Regions from separate parts of the Homo sapiens genome. Here region 2 is linked to region 1. The links come from fine-mapping of genetic effects on gene expression. Tissue or cell type: cerebral cortex. Region 1 holds a variant in brackets; the other region holds the start of a gene. All regions are shown on one strand. Distances are from middle to middle.

Region 1 (8,108 bases):
TTCCCTCTGTACAGCAGGAGCAAAGTGAGGCTCTCCGTAGCAGGAAGAAGTGTTCATAGCATTCTTCTTTATACCTTGCCCTTGAAATCCAAAGGAAATGATGGATGGCCTATGACCTATAGAAGGGTTTCTTTGGTTCCAGACTCGGGGTGACACCATAGAAGAGAGAAGGCTATAAACACCAGAAATAAAGAGTTGAGGTTTCAGAGGATGGTGGGGATCTGGGGTGGGGAGGAGGGGGTAGGAAATTAATAAGAAATACGTCCTCGAGGCCTTGAATCCTGAGAGGCCCATCATTCAGTCTTGTGGTGACAGAGTCACACAGCCTTGTTTGACCTTCATAGGCCCTAGCCAGAGTTCACATTCCATTATCTCAATCTGATTATATCATCCTTACTAACCAGCCTTTGGAATGAGAGCAGCCACATTCTTCTCTTAATCTTTCAGTCCCAAGGACTTTCACTGTCTTCTTTCGTAACCCATGTTCCTCTCCTCTCTTGCCACCAATGCTACTTGATCGTCTGCAGAACAATGAATTGTGGCCGAGGTGACTATTGCAGAAGGGCCTCGTGGCTGGCTCCTGTGCCGGAGTCTCAGGAAGAGTGGGTCTGCAGTTTGGGCGAGTGCCCGAGGGGGACAGAGGAAGGTGAGGAGCAGTGTTTCCTGCCTTCCCGGGAGGTGAAGGAGGACAGGTGGGGTCAGAGCCTCTGGTGTGAATTCTTTCCTAGGAGTGAAACTGTCCTCTCTGGCTTTAGTTACATCCAAACAGCTGCCACAGGATGGCAAAGAAGAAACAGAAAGCGCTCCAAGAGATTCTGAGAGGCTGTCAAAGGCAGAAAGATCAGAGGACAGCAGCCAGCCACTGTGAGCATCTTGCCTGCGCTCTGCTCCGTGGTGTGTTGCCCCTGCTGTGTGTGGCTGTCGTGTTCCCAAAAAAACAGCTTAAAGTCACAGTCTGCACCTGGCGACTGATAGAGCGTGGAGTAAAGTCACTAAAAGAGTGTGCTCATCCCAAGATCAGAGTTCTGCTTCTGGTGCCCGCTCTGGGTAGATATTTTAGCCTTTGCATGTGGCTGAGTACTGGCCAAATTTCATTCTCAGGACTCATGAAAACCAGAAAGGGACCCCCATTCCTGTGTGAGTATCAGCTGCATGACAGAGGGTCCCAGTACTCAAAAGGGAGATTTCCTGCTCAGCTGCTCTGTGTGCCGCTGCCTCCAGGGATGCTGGCTTCTTCTGTCTTGAATTAACGCCAGTGAGTGACACTACTGAAAATATCTTTAGCAGTAAGTGGCCTTTGACTGGCTGGACTGAATGTTGCCCTAGGGTGTGTCCTCTGGCCTCTGAGTGTGAGGCTTCAGGGACAGAAGAGAAGTTGGAGAAGATGACAGCTCCTGCCTGGAGTGGCAGTGGACTGAAAGGCCAGCGAAAGTTGGATGATTCACGAAAAGATGACATGATGGCCAGGAGAACTGGGATGTCCCTTAGACACACTGGATCCAACCCAAACCAGTTCCTTCCAGTTCCATTTGCAAAGCAACAGGATGTGGAAGAATCTTCTAAAGGTCTACCCATGAAAGATCAGAGGTCAGAAAGTTATTCTGTGCCCTTGTGACTTTGTTTCTCCAGTCTGAGCTTTCAGTGTGTTCTTAATGCATTATGGCACCTCAGTGCCGCTTACCTGCTGTTGCTAGCAGAAACAGAATGATCAAAATTGGCCTCATCTGCGAAGAAATTTTTCCTCTTTTTACATGTAAGCAGGTGTGATTCAGTGGTGAATTTACCTGTTAAACATTTTTTTCTGACTCTTGTGGACTGAATAAATGGGAAATTCTTTTATTTCTTTCTAGCTCACATAGGAGCCTTTGGGCAAAGGGGTTGAACTTCTATCTGACTTACTTGATTTCACTTTGATTCCAGGTCCAAAGAAGATGAATACATTTATAAAAGTTGTAATTATATTAATTTTTCAACATTAGCAAACACTCGTTGCCTTCTGCAGTAGGATTTCTATTCCATGCTCTGACTTGACTTAGAGTCAACCATGACTTGATGACGACTAAGGAAATAATTATCCTGGGGTTCCTGTTCCAGTTTAGGGTCCTATATGTTGAAGCCTGTCTTGCCATTTAATAAAAGTGATACATTTTTGTTAAATGTATGGTAAGCCTACCAATGTAGGGCAAAGAAGTGAGGAGGGCTTTGCATAATTTATAAGCTCACCATAAAATAGGAAGCAATGGAGTTCTGCTTCTCCAAGGACCCTGATGGCAGTGGGAGAGAAGGCAGAGTGGGAGGCAAGGAGAACAGTAGGTAATCTCTCCAGATTTTTAAAAAATCAATACCCTAGCCATCTTGATCACCTGAATTTAATCTATATTTTACATTCTTCTGAATAAAACAGTAATGGAGCCTAGCACTGTTTTCAGGGAGCAGAAGTAATATTTGTGCTTTACAACCACAGAGTGCTTTGTAGCGTTTCCTGTGTGTCTGCTCCCTCAAGCTCACCTTGTCCTGGGAATTCACAGGTAGGTTGAAGGAATCTATGTTAGCTCCATTTCACAAATAAGAAGGCTGATGTAGAGAAAAGCTGCGTGAGTGGATCACACATGATTCCCGAGCTGGTTAGGACTGGGAAGACAGAGGAACAGAGTGGTGAAGTGGGTCCTCCACAGTTACTCACTTTCCAGATGCCCTGGACTTGACCCTGGATCCGCGGGCTTCTGTAAAGCAAGTTAGAATGAAAGGAAAGAAGGAGGTGAGGCCTAGAGACTGCCTACTGGATACATTTAGGCGCTCTCCCATTCATTTATTCCTTACACTACCTTTGAGAGGAAGAATTTTCATCTGCATTTTGCAGTTAGGAAACTGAGGTCCACATGTACACAGCTGGTACCTACAGAGCCAAGATCCAAACTCAGCTCTGTCAGAGTGGAAAACCAGCATCCCTCTCCAGCATGATGCCTACACGAGTAACTAGAGGAGACTGTGGAAGCCTGAGGAATTCTCTGTCACTTTTTTTTTTTTTTTGAGATGGAGTCTTGCTTTGTTGCCCAGACTGGAGTGCAGGGCCCGATCTCAGCTCACTGAAACCTCTGCCCATTCAAGCGATTCTTATGCCTCAGCCTCCTGAATAGCTGGGATTATATGCGCCCTCCACCACGCCCAGCTAATTTTTGTATTTTTAGTAGAGACGGGGTTTCGCTGTGTTGGCCAGGCTGGTCTGGAACTCCTGACCTCAAGTGATCCACCTGCCTTGATCTCCCAAAGTCCCGGGATTACAGGTTTGAGCCACTGCACCTGGCCTGTCACTCTTTGTGATTCTGGAAAGATTCCTCTTTATTTTCACATGGGAATGGACAGTTACTCTGAGCACAGGGAG[G/A]AATGGTCAGGTGAACTATGTGACATATTGTGTGAATGAGCCAGCAAACACTGTCGGTATGCACATTTCCTATCAACAAGTGTTTATCAAGTAATAATCACTATGTGTAAAGCACTGTGCTGGATGCTGGGGGTGATCTTAGATGAGCAGTAAAAACACTTTAAGCTAACGCTAGTTCATGATATAGAAATAGATAACTATCAAATTATTGATTCTGAAATGCTTTATTAGTAGTGAAAGTTACATAAATACAGGCAATGGGTGCATAGGCTATTCCCTTTATCTTTCTACCTACCCCTACCCTCAAAAGTAAACTTTATTTTATTTTTTTGAGACAGGATCTCACTCCATCACCCAAGCTAGTGTGATCATAGTTCACTGCAGCATATCCCTTCCAGACTTGAGCAATCCTCCCACCTCAGCCTCCCAAGTAGCTGGGACCACAGGCGTACACCACTACACCTGGCTGATTTTTTTGTTTTTATTTTGTAGAGGCAGAGTCTCACTATGTTGCCCAGGCTGGTCTCAAACTCCTGGCCTCAAGTGATCCTCTAACTTCAGCCTCCCAAGTGTTGGGATTATAGGCATGAGCCACCATGCCTGGCCTCAAAATTAAACTTTATTGACTTTTTTTTTTTTTTTGTAGGATGCTTTTGTCAACTGTGACCTGCGTGGCCAATTTTTACCTCATAACCTATTGAGTCACGTACTTTGCATTGGAAAGATTGCTTTATTACTTTTTTTTTTTTTTTTTTTTGCTAACTTGCCTTTACTTTTTGATCTCCTGTAGGATGATTGGGAAAGTCACTTGACACCTCAGCTCTAATTATCTTCCCCTTGCCAGCAAAGGCAATTCTGCTTAAGTTGGTGCCCTTTTAAAGCTAATACAAGTCTCAGAGGAAATTCCTTAAACCCCCAGTACATAGTAAAGGGATAAATGAAGGTTATCTTCGGAAACTGGGCTATTCTTTTCTCTTCAATTTCTAGAGCACCTGATAAGTATTTAATAAATACTTATTGACTAGTCTGGCCACTGTTCAGGGAACCCAAACAGAAAAATCTCTGCTTCTGTGGGGCTTACATTTTGGTATAGATCTACATTTATTGGTAGAGATGTCCATGAAATACTGTTAATTACTTTGTGTAGAAACAACTTAAATTCAGATATATCCTACATGCAACAACATAGTTGAAACTCACAAAATGTGCTAAAGAAGACAAACTCAAGAGTACATACTATTTGAGTCTGTTTACGTAGTACAAATCACTCAACGCTAATCTATGCATATGTTCATTTTGTGAAAATGCATTGAAGTATATGTGTGGTATGTGCACTTTCTGTATATAGCTTAAACTTCAATAAAATGTTAATTAAAATATTCAAATTGAAACACAAAAACACATAGCAACTATTAATAGATTCTTGATTAACCATCCATTGGGAAGAAATTCTCTGCTCTCTTCCATAGATAACTTAGAAAACACTGTGTTTGAATAAATGTATTCCAATAGGCCTATTTATTAACTGGGAAACACTTACCTAGTCTTCAGAATTAATATTGCCCTTGCACTCCTTTTCCTTTTCCTTTCCTTTCCTTTTCAGACAGAGTCTCACTCTGTTGTCACCCAGGCTGGAGTACAGTGGCGTGATCTCTGCTCACTGCAACCTCTGCCTCCCCAGTTCAAGTGATTCTCCTGCCTCACCCTCCAGAGTAGCTGGGACCACAGGTGTGCACCACCATGCCCAGCTAATTTTTTATGTGATTGGTAGAGACAAGGCTTTGCCATGTTGCCCAGGCTGGTCTCGAACTCCTGAGCTCAAGCAATCTGCCTGCCTTGGCCTCCCAAAGTGCTGGGATTACAAGCATGAGCCACCACGCCCAGCCCACTCTCTCAATGTGAAAGAACCCACTTGTCATCTGCTTCAATGCAGTAGTGTTTTTGAAAATTGAGAATATTAGGTTCAACTTAAGCACCTTCCGAAACGATACTCTGGAGAAGGAGAAAATGAGTCTTACTGCCAGAAGAAAAACATTCATAAACCCTTTCCTTGTCTTGTTTTTGGCCATTTCAACAGAGATTTGGGGTTTTGCATTGGTATGGTTGCCTTCACTGTGAATTAAATCATTATCAATGAATGTAGATTATTCTAGAATGATAAAAGCATAAGAGAGAAGGGGGTATGTGTGTGTACACTCATGCATTCTGGGGTGTTTTCTCTAAGATTCTCTAAGATTTCTCTAAGATTGCAGGAAGAGATGTTTAGAAATTACCCTTTTCCTATAAACTATTGTGAAACTGATCATGGGACCAGGTAATTTTTGCTGCCGACTCCAAAATGTAATTTATTGGAAACTGGAAGCAGGACGTATTTTCTTCACTATTCTTTGTCCACCATCAGAATTGCAGAAAGGAGGAGCTTTTCAGGGTATAGGTAAGAACTGACCCTTAAAACTCGCCTTTGCTGAAGAGACAGGCATTTGTGGGAGCTGTGTTGTTTTGTTGTTGTTGTTGTTGTTGTTGTTGTTGTTTTTTCATGTGCTGGAAATATGGCTTGTAATGTTCTAATATTTTTCTAATTTAGTCTTTTTGCTTTAGACTCATTTAGACTTCCGGTGACTATCGCAGAGGGTACAACTTTATGGATCTAAATTATCAGGAGAATATAAAAGATTAGAAAAAAACTTTAGTTTTTCAAGTTATGGAGTATCATTCAAGTCTGGTTTTGATTAAGGCTACCAGTTTTCTAGGAATTGTGGTTTCTGTCAAATGCATGCGGAAGGCACTGATTGGGGTTCTGGTTGGAGTTCTGGTTTCCCTTCAGAAAACTGCAGAAACACTCTTTGATGTTATTTGTGCAAATGCATTAACATCTCAGGGACAGGGTCAGTAAGGGTGCACTTGTACAGTGGGTGTCCATTACAGCCCATTACTGCTGAACATAAAGGCACAAAAAGTTGAACTGTTTGTGAATGACTGTAATACATGTTTGTTTTCTAAGCTGCCTTCTCTAAACGCTGTGGATTGCACCTAAGCCTTTCTGTGTTTATATTGAACAGATTCTTTCTTTTTGGGTAGTGTGGGGATTATTTTCATTTCTCTTCTGGGTTTTGAGATAAATTTTGCATTTTTTAGAAATATCAAGACTTGTCTTTGATTTTTCAGCAGCCAATGAATATTGCTAATTGTATAATGCCATTTCTCTTTCAGTATCTCAGCAAAAAAGGTTTGGCGCACATGTATTTCACCGGCAGTTTCTATTTCCAGCTTGCTTACAGTGTTCACTTTCAACTCTGCCAGTCCTCTAATTTTTTATTTGATCTTATAGATACGGTCCGAGAACTCCTGTGTCTGATGACGCAGAGTAAGTTGCCTTGTATTTGTAGGATTACATTAATTACTAGCCTAAACTGCATGCTTCCAGTACTTACCACTAATTGAAATGCAACTGATGCAAGTGAACTGAATAGTTAGCTGACTTGTGCAGCAAAGCACTTGAAGTTGGAATGCAGAGCATACATTCTGTGCAGGAAAGATGAATGAAAAAGCAACTTAAGCATGATTCTAATATGAAGCTGCTGCTTGAAACTTAACATTTGCTTTCCATAGACTGGGCATGTTAAAGTCGTTGTTCTTGTTATGGTCTGAACATTGGTACCCCTTCTGAACTATAGATTTATTTAAAGGGCATTCTGAGTTTTGCACTTAATTCTTGATATGTTGGGGCTTAGAGTTAACAATGAGGTAGTCATTCCCATAGTCTCATTTTTTAACTAAGAAAATAAATCCCAAACCACTAATTATAGATTCAGAAGCCCAAGTTCCTCCCAGGTTGGAGTCACATAAACTGTGGGATGCTTGAGACCAAAACATTGGAGTTTTGCTCAAGTCCCATGGCTTAGCAGGGGGCCAAGGATGTAAGACATGACTGGCCCTTCCCCTCCCTGCTGCTTGGTTTTCACTCAACCAAGCAGAGGTTCATTCCTTATCCCGTACTCCACATCCAAATTTGAGAAGACTCCAAACCCTCCCATTTGTGACCACATTAACTCTGCTTCAGAAATGGATTTCCCATATGCAGATCATTCTGCAACTGATATTCAAGGCAAACTTTTTTTTATTTGCAAAATGCTAGACTTCTCAGATTCAAGTAATTTGTATTTGAAGAAACATGATTAATATCTAAATCCAGCATCAGTAGTCTGCTGATCCTGATATTGAGGAGCATTTTGTGGCCTCGTGGGAGCCTGGGCCATCCAGAATGTAATCACCAGTCCTCCTCTGCCTATCCTTTCCTGAGCCTCAGTTTCAAGTCACACAATGAGGAATTTGAATAGAATTTGCATGTAGAACATGCAAACATCATTTCCACCAATGACAATGAGATTAGGCAAAAAATTAAGTGTCTTCAGATTGTGCTATTTTCATGTTTGTGTTCAAGATGTCTGCTTAGTTTGGACTCTGAGCCCTAAGTGGTCAAACTCCAGGGCCAAGTTTCCCATGTGTGATCTGACATAAAGAACACTCATGCCTCAAAACCAAATTCAGCCTGAGCTTGACTGACTGCACAGAGTTAAGTAGTCTGTAAAATTGAGCCCTGGTTATTACTTTTCAAACCTGCAATGGCAATATTTAACATTCACTGAAAGGAGGATTTTATAAGATTGACAGGCAAAACACTACTTTGGTTTGGTGAGCGAAAACATTTTGATAGAATGGATTTCTT
Region 2 (8,108 bases), 97 kb before region 1:
AGTATTGTCTTTGGAGTGTTTGATCCACATTGGCAGGGACTGGGATATGGAGAAAGGAGTGAAAAAAGGAGTTTGAGACTACAGGAAAAGTCATTAGCAATTGCACTTAGAATTGAAAATCATGACAGAAAGACCGGTGCAGTGGCTCATGCCTATAATCCCAGAACTTTGGGAGCCTAAGGCAGGTGATCGCTTGAGCCCAGGAGTTCAAGACCAGCCTAGGCAACATGGCAAAATCTTGTCTTTACTAAAAATACAAAAAATTAGCCAGGCATGGTTGTGCATGCCTGTAGTCCCAGCTACTTAGGAGGCTGAGGTAGGAGAATCACCTGGGCCTGGGAAGTCAAGCCTGCAGTGAGCTTTGAATGTGCCACTGGACTCCAGCCTGGGTGATGGGAGTCGGACCCTGTCACAAAAAAAAAAAAAAAAAAAAAAGAAAAGAAAAGAAAGATCTTCATATAATTGACAATTCATTGAGATATCATATCCATCCAATCTTGTGCCCTGCAGCCTCTCTTATACCCCTGATATTTCATTCTTAGTACTAGATGAGTATATTAATTTGCTCTGATGGCCATAACAAAGTACCACAGATTGGATGGCTTAAATAATAGAAATTTATTTTGTCAATTCTGTAGGTTAGAAGTCTGAGATCAAGGTGTGATCAGAGTGGGTTTGTTCTAAGGCCTGTCTCCTTGGCTCCCAGATGGCTGCCTTTCCCTGCATCTTCACGTGGTCTTTCCCCTGTATGTATCTGTGTCCATATTTTGCCTTTTTATAAGGACACTGTCGTATTGGATTAGGGCCCCCTCAGATGACCTCATATAACTTAATTACCTTCTTACAGTCACTACAGTCACATTCTGAGTTAGAACGGGTTAGGAGTTCAAGATACGAATTGGGGGAGGGAGGAGGAGACAATTTAGCTCGTAACAGTGGGTTAGCCAGCTAAGCCCTTAAATTCTTATTCACGTGTGTTTTGAATGCCTAGACTTGCTAGCTGAAGTCTAATATCCTCTTTCTGCACCACCACAAACTATTTTTCCAAATTTGTTTCCATAATTATTCTGTGTCTCTGCAGAGGTGGAAGGTTATATATAGCAGTGCTGTAAAGCTTTTTTTTCCCCAACTTCATTTTTTTTTCCCTTTCCTGTTCCCGAAAAAACAAAAAATGCCATTCTTTGAAGAAAGAAACCACTTGTTCTCCCTTATCTTTCGTTGAACAGCGTTTAGCAGAATTTGTGACATTACATCAGTTCCTCACTTTTTTCCCTTAGGAATAGACCTTCAATTACAAACTGTGAGCAAAAAATATATAATAGCAGGAAATACATATTTCAGCTGACGTCTGACTCCTTTTTTTCCATAGTTATAGCTTACCTAGAGGATAACTTTCTGTGGAACTAATTCTTAGCATGTATTCCAAACCCAGGTTTATAGGGATTTGGTTGTTTGACAACAGGAAAAAAATACCACCAAATGTATGAAGTATGAGACCATGCTAGGCTGAAACAGCACTTCTCTTAAAACGTGCCTTCCTCTGGATTGTTTTTGTAGGAAGTTTGTCTTGGCAAGCATTTCAAAAGAACTCGCTAGACGCCTCTCTTGTAATTAGCTGGCTTTCTGCTAGAATGTTAGGTCTACCTTCATCTCAAATGGTACAAAAATTAATTCCTCTCTGTCGCTCTGTCCACAGTATAAAATACTAGATTTCTGAGTAGTTTGATATCTAATTTTTCCTTTCTAAAATTTAACTATATTCAGTTTAAGTTTTTGATTTAACTTAAACATAACATTAAAAATAGGATGATTGATATAATGTTATATAGGAATGGTACTTTTCCTCTTTTCCCTCAGTGTTAAAAGAATGGTACTTTTTCCTCACAAAAACCTATATCCCCAGCCATGGAAAGAATATCAGACAAACCTAAATGGAAGGATATTCTACAAAATACCCGACCAGTATTCTTCAAAACTGTCAAGGCCATCAAAAGCAAGGCATATCTGAGAAACAAGGAAAGTCCAGAAAAAGTTAAGGAGACATAATGATTAAATATTATATGGCATTATAGATGGGATCTTAAAACAGAAAGAGCATATTAGGGAAAAACTAATGAAATCCAAATAAAACATGGATTTAGTTAATAGTAGTGTACCAGTGTTTATTTCTTAACTGTGATAAATGTAGATGTACCATAGGAATGTAAGATGTAAGACATGAGTTATACTGAAACTCTGCATATTATCTTTGTAGCTTTCTATAAATCTAAAAACTATTCTAAAATAAAAAGTTCACTTAAAGTAGGATGAATGACAATAAAGATAAAAGAGCATAATGCAAGGAAACTATGAAATAGGTAAGGAAATACAGAAGTTATTAATAAATATTAAATGTCAGCCTACCACTTGATGTATTTGTGTCAATAAATGGCAGGATACCAGTGAGTCCATTGGCATATTAATCCAATAAACTTTTATAAATGATGAATTGGTTGTAAACATTGTGTTTTATAGCATTTGAAAATTCCAAATGGTAACTCCGCACACGATGCTTCTGCTCACATATTTCAGCATCCTGCTTTTAGAATCTGCAGAAAGAAATAGTTCATGTCCTTTAGGGAGGTTTAATAAAAAGCAACAGGTGGAAAATGGATTTTGCAGTAGCATGAACAGCCATAACCATAAATACTAGTACCTCAGAATTATACCAGCAGAGGACTGTAAACACATTAATCTCCCAGCAGTGCAGAAATTCCATTCTCAGATGTCATCTCAATTTCAGGCACAAAGATTGAATGCCTCCATTTAAATTCAAAACACTGAAGGAATATGATGATCCTTTTTTTTCATGGGGATTCATGGAGTGAGTTTGCCAGTTTCCTCATCTATAAGATGGGGTTGATAAATCCCATCTCAGCATTGTGGGATTAAATGAGATGATATACATAAAATACCTAATATGATGGATGGTACACAGGATGTTTTCAATAAATGGTAGTTTACTTTTTATTATGCTCATGAACATTAGGATGGTCTTAGAATCCCAGAACTAGAAGCCACTTAGAGATTTACTTTTTGAAACATTGTTATTTTACAAATAAGGAAACTGAGACCAGAAGGCAGTGACTTGCCTGGAGTCAGGCAGCAACTTTGTTCCAGAGTTGGGACTGGAGTGAGTCTTTGTTCCTCGGGTCCCACTTGGGTGCTTTTTCTAGATCCAGATTTCCTGACAGTACTGCAAACCTACTGTGTGCTAGTGGCTGACACAAAGCTCTCTGCACAATTCCAATCCTGGCATCTCTACTTCTGAAGATGCCATTCCTTTTCCTCAGAGGGAATGGGCTTCTCCGCCTCCCTCTCCAATAGGTGTGGCAATCAGCTGTCTTCCAGTTCCCTTTCACTGCATCAGCATTTCAGCCGCAGCAGCCTGCTTGTGGACAGAGCAGGGGTTGGCAGTGGTGACGACTGTTTTGGGAAAGGAAATGTAAGGGCATTTCGGCTGCTGTGCTGGGGCTGACGAGGAGCACACAGGAGAGATGCCCCTCCCATCTCCCAGAGTGGGTTGGCTGGAGTTCATTGCGGAGCATGAGGACGTGTGGGGGTAAGTAAAATTCATTATAAAAGAAATACATGCTTAGGGGTATCCATGATGGAAAGAAGGAAGCTATTTAGACTTTAATACTTGGTTTAAAAAAAAGTGACTTTTTATTCACTTATTAGTATGGCGAAAATAATATGAAAATTACTTTCCTGTGGATTCATCTTGTCCTTTGATAACTGTTAGCACCTGTTGCTTTTAATTAAGCTTTTTTTTTTTTTTAATTCCCTAAGGAAAGCATTGTTTTTTATTTTCCGGTATGTGGTACAAGACACATAACTCCATTAGTTTAGTCAAAATAAAAAGGATTTTTGAGAATTTTGAGAATGAGAAGCAACTTGGCTGCATTTTTAAGATGTGGTCCAGCAGCACATGGTGTTGTGGGGGAGATGTGGCTGCATTCATGGTGGGGCTGCTTCACCTGAGCCCCTGTCACATTCTGCTCCTGACTCCACAGCCCCCTTTGCTTTTTAAAAACTTCCATTTCTTAAAATGAGGAGGAAAAGAAGCAAGGAAGACATTGGGGAGGCAGGGAGGAGTCTGGAGGGAAGGGCTGCATCTCCAGCCTTGCCCACTTAGTCCTTGTCCTTCATAGTCACTATTTACTGCAGGCCGGGAAAGGAATGGGGGTTATTTCTGGACAATTGTCTCATAAAATCCCGTCAGACCCGTCTGAATGCTAAACGTTCCATGGCACTGGTTATCTAGGGGAAGAAAATTTTCCTTAGCCAAATTTATGAGGCTGGGTTGAAAATCAGGTTGAAACAGAGCCTGGCGAATCCCTATGGCAAAATGATTCATCTTTGTGGAGTCGGGAAATCTATTTTTATCACCTTTATTCAGCCAGCTCCTGATTGTGATTCTCTCACTGAGCTACAGCCGTTTTCTTCATGGTGCTGAATAGACCAAATGTCTCAGGAGTCTGAAACTTCTCTCCTGCCACTCCCAGAGTGGCTGATTCAGCAGTCCCGGGAGAAGGGGTTTGTCCTGTGCTGCGCGGGTGGGTTCCGCACAAGGTGAAGGTCAAATAAAACCGAGAGGCTGCAAGTGTCAGCAGCCAGCCTTTGACTCAGGAATCCTGCCTGAGGGTATGTGCCACTCTGCTCTCCTGCTCTCTCTGTAAGGTGACTAGAAGGTGACTGGGCAGCCATAACTCCTCCAATTTTGAAGACCTTCCCAAGGGAAGAAGGGGCAAGAATAAGCCACCCTCCTTACAGCTGCCAATACATCTCCTCAATCTAATCATCGGGCAGAGAGGGACTTCCTAACACCGTTGTATTCATTTTCCCATTTCCATTTAGTTCTGTAACTATGCATTCCAGGCTGATACATAGTCCTAGCTGGTTCTTGCTGGAGTCCCAACTAATGCTGAGAGGAGTGGCAATTGTTCTCTATAATAAAGTTTAAAGGATAAAGATATGGAAGAAGAACTCACTCTTGAGTTTCCTTTTCTAATGGATTCAGCATGCTTACTCTCTGGGAGCTATAACAAATGGCAATTAGGAAAGCAACAGGAATGTTGACTAGACAGGAACAGTGACCATGGCTGTTGGGGGTATTCCCTGCACCTGGTATATAGTAGACACTCAATAACAATTTGGGAAATGAATGACCAGGATACTGTTCCCCATAGGCTTCAGTTGGCCTTCTTAAGAGCTCTCCTTCAGGACATAGTATGCAGGGCAGCTAGGAGCTGACATTCTAGAGTGAGATGGCCTGAGTTCAAATCCTGGATTTGCAGCTTCTCAGTTGTGTGCTGATCTTTGGCAGGCAACACAATCGTTTGTTTCCTCGTCTGTAAAAATGGACATAATATAGTAACTACCTTATGTGGTTTTCATGAAGAGTAAATTAATTAATATAGGTAAAGAGTCTAGATTTTTTTTTCTTGTCATGTGGTTCAAGATATGAAGAAGAAGAAAAACAGGAGTAGGAAAAGAAGGAGAAAGAGGAGGAGGAGGAACTTTGGCTGTTGGGATAAATTTGGGACCCTTTGAGATTTTGGCCCTGCCTTTTAGGTTGAATATTTCCCTAAAATCATGATTCAGTGATTTTTAAACCTTCTCTTGTCCTGTAGAGAGAATAATTTGAGAATAAAAGAATAAAACGGGCCAGATGCAGTGGCTTACGCCTGTAATCCTAGCACTTTGGGAGGCTGAGGCAGGTGGATCACCTGAGATCAGGCGTTCGAGACCAGCCTGGCCAACGTGGCGAAACTCTATCTCTACTAAAAATACAAAAGTTAGCCGGGTGTGGTGATGGGCACCTGTAATCCCAGCTATTCAGGAGGCTGAGGCAGGAGAATCGCTTGAACCCGGGAGGTGGAGGTTACAGTGAGCTGAGATCGCACCACTGCACTCTAGCCTGAAAAGAAAAAAAAAGAATAATAAAATGGATTTCAGGGGGAAAATGATGACGAATTATTGCCAAGAGTTATTGAACTCCTGCTCCTTGCCAGGTACTAACCATATTCAGTGTTGAAACAAACTGTCAGTCCTTGCCCTGATGGACGCTGCAGTTGACTTTCAAGGGCTGCTGGGCAGTGTGAATTCAATGGCTCAGCGAACACAGCTGCTACGTTCCTTGTTCTCTACCTTTTAAAAAGGAATGTTGAGTAGATCTAGAAGGATGAAGCTTTAAACTTAGCTCCCAACAGGAAATGAGGAGTGAGGAAGTAGGGAGAGATTTGTGTGTGTGTGGAGTAGCAGATGAAGTCTAACTGTACAGCAGTATAAAGGCAGTGAAAGAAATGTAGACGTGGGCATTGGATTGAACCATGAAACTGAAGGGAAATCCAAAGCAGTAATGTATCATCAACCTGTGAAATGTAAAGAAGCACAGGTAAGTAGTGAAAGAATGAAGGAACCAAAGCAGTTGTTGTAATGATATAAAATAAGAGCCATAGCTTATTAGACCCTTAGAGTCCCAAAGCCCAGCCTTGAGAGTGTAGATTCGGGAAGGCTGGATTCCTTTGGCATCCTCTCTTTTCAGCTCTGGGTACTGCCGCAGCAGGTGAGCTTGTGTTTGGTCCCTTTCAGAGTCTGGAGTCTCCCATCTCTTGGAAATACAAGGATATGTATGAGCTACCAACTCCCATCTGGCTTTACTGGTCTGTGAAACATTCTATTTTAATTTGGTGAATCCTTTTTTGACTCTAGAGATCTTCAGCAGTACCTGCCCTTCACACCGTTTCCTCACCTTTGCCAGATCTGCTTTTGAGTAGCAGTTTTATCCCTAGATGTCTTATAGCCCAGACCTGGTAAATCACCAATGTGAATTATAGAACAGGATCATTTTTCATCCTGCTTTCATCCCAGTGGCTGGATTAATTTTTGGATCTCTGCTTTCTGTAAGCAGTCATTTCTTCCACAGCAGCCATCTGTGAAGAAACAGAGCTTACGAAATGACTGGGGCATGTTTTACATGGCTGTGCTCAGTTCCTTCTGTTTGATTCCCATGTAAGCTTTGGCAGTGATTTCCACAAGCGTTTCTGTGGGAGGTGCTGGAGAATGACTTTGGTAAACAGCCCCTTGGCTATTGTTGGCCCTTTCCCTGCAAATACCATAAAGGACACAACTTGAAAAGTCGCTCTGGTTTCTGAGCCCCTCCTAGGGCCCACCCCAGGTCCGACATCTGAAAAGCCGAACTCAGCCATGCTTGTGGTAGAGCAGCGATGTGGACTGCGTCTGTGTTTGCCTGACTTCTGCTGGGCCACTCTGGGCTGGATGGGAGCTCTGACCATAGAGCTTACTCCCCTCCCCTCATTACACATCCTGGGATTTTCACACTAGCCCTCAATCTGTTGGAGTCTTTTTAGGTAGAATCTCATTTCATCTTCCTCGTTTCCGTTTCAGGTTTTCATTCCAAGAATGGAATGGCTGGTTCCATTGAGAACCAGCCTTAGGAGTTCTCAGTGTATTGATTTTATTTACACTGCTAGTGTTACATTTTGCTTTTAGGAATATGGAAAAGCTTAGGGAATTTTTGGACATGTGTTTTTCTCTCTTTCTTTCTTTTCTTTTTTTTTTTCCTGATGGCCAGAGGTTTCTGCTCTCAAATTACTCAGTCAGGGTAATTAAGGACTAAAAAAATGTGAATGTGTGAATTTAACAGTAAAAACTTAAAGGAAGGAAAAAATACCTTCCTTATAGGAAGAAGAGAAAAATGCATATAAATAAACTTGTTAGAAAGAGAAAACTGATTTACCAGCAACTGAACTCCCTTTTGTTTCTTGATTTTTTTGCCTTTAAATAGGCTGTGCTATTTCCTGAAGTTGACCCATTTTCCTTGCTTCTGCCAACACTCCCTTAAGATAAGTATTTATAAAGTTTATTCCACGTTGATATTTCAATTGTTTCCAGAAATCCATCCCATCATAGCAGCTTCCCTACTGCCAGGGAACCTGACCTCAGTATTTCCTGAAGTCAGAGGATGGTCTTATATGTATGTAAGTGCAGGTATCTACAGTAAGAGAGAACAACTTGCTATATAGGGCTCATATGAGTCAACG

Evidence for each region. PIP is the estimated chance that this variant, and not a neighbour inherited with it, causes the effect.
Region 2: LIMCH1 starts here. The variant in region 1 is fine-mapped to the expression of LIMCH1 in cerebral cortex (GTEx, PIP 0.92).

The regions. Positions count from the first base shown.
Region 1 is chr4:41,632,222-41,640,329 of GRCh38, forward strand. It overlaps LIMCH1 (LIM and calponin homology domains 1), which reads left to right. Exons shown (of 32, transcript NM_001330672.2): 11 at 528-646; 12 at 756-864; 13 at 1,327-1,587; 14 at 6,711-6,746. Among named protein-coding and RNA genes, the nearest start is that of LIMCH1-AS1, 57 kb to the right of the region's middle. The variant G/A (reference allele first, on the strand shown) is at 3,383.
Region 2 is chr4:41,534,750-41,542,857 of GRCh38, forward strand. It overlaps LIMCH1 (LIM and calponin homology domains 1), which reads left to right and starts at 3,408. Exons shown (of 32, transcript NM_001330672.2): 1 at 3,408-3,601.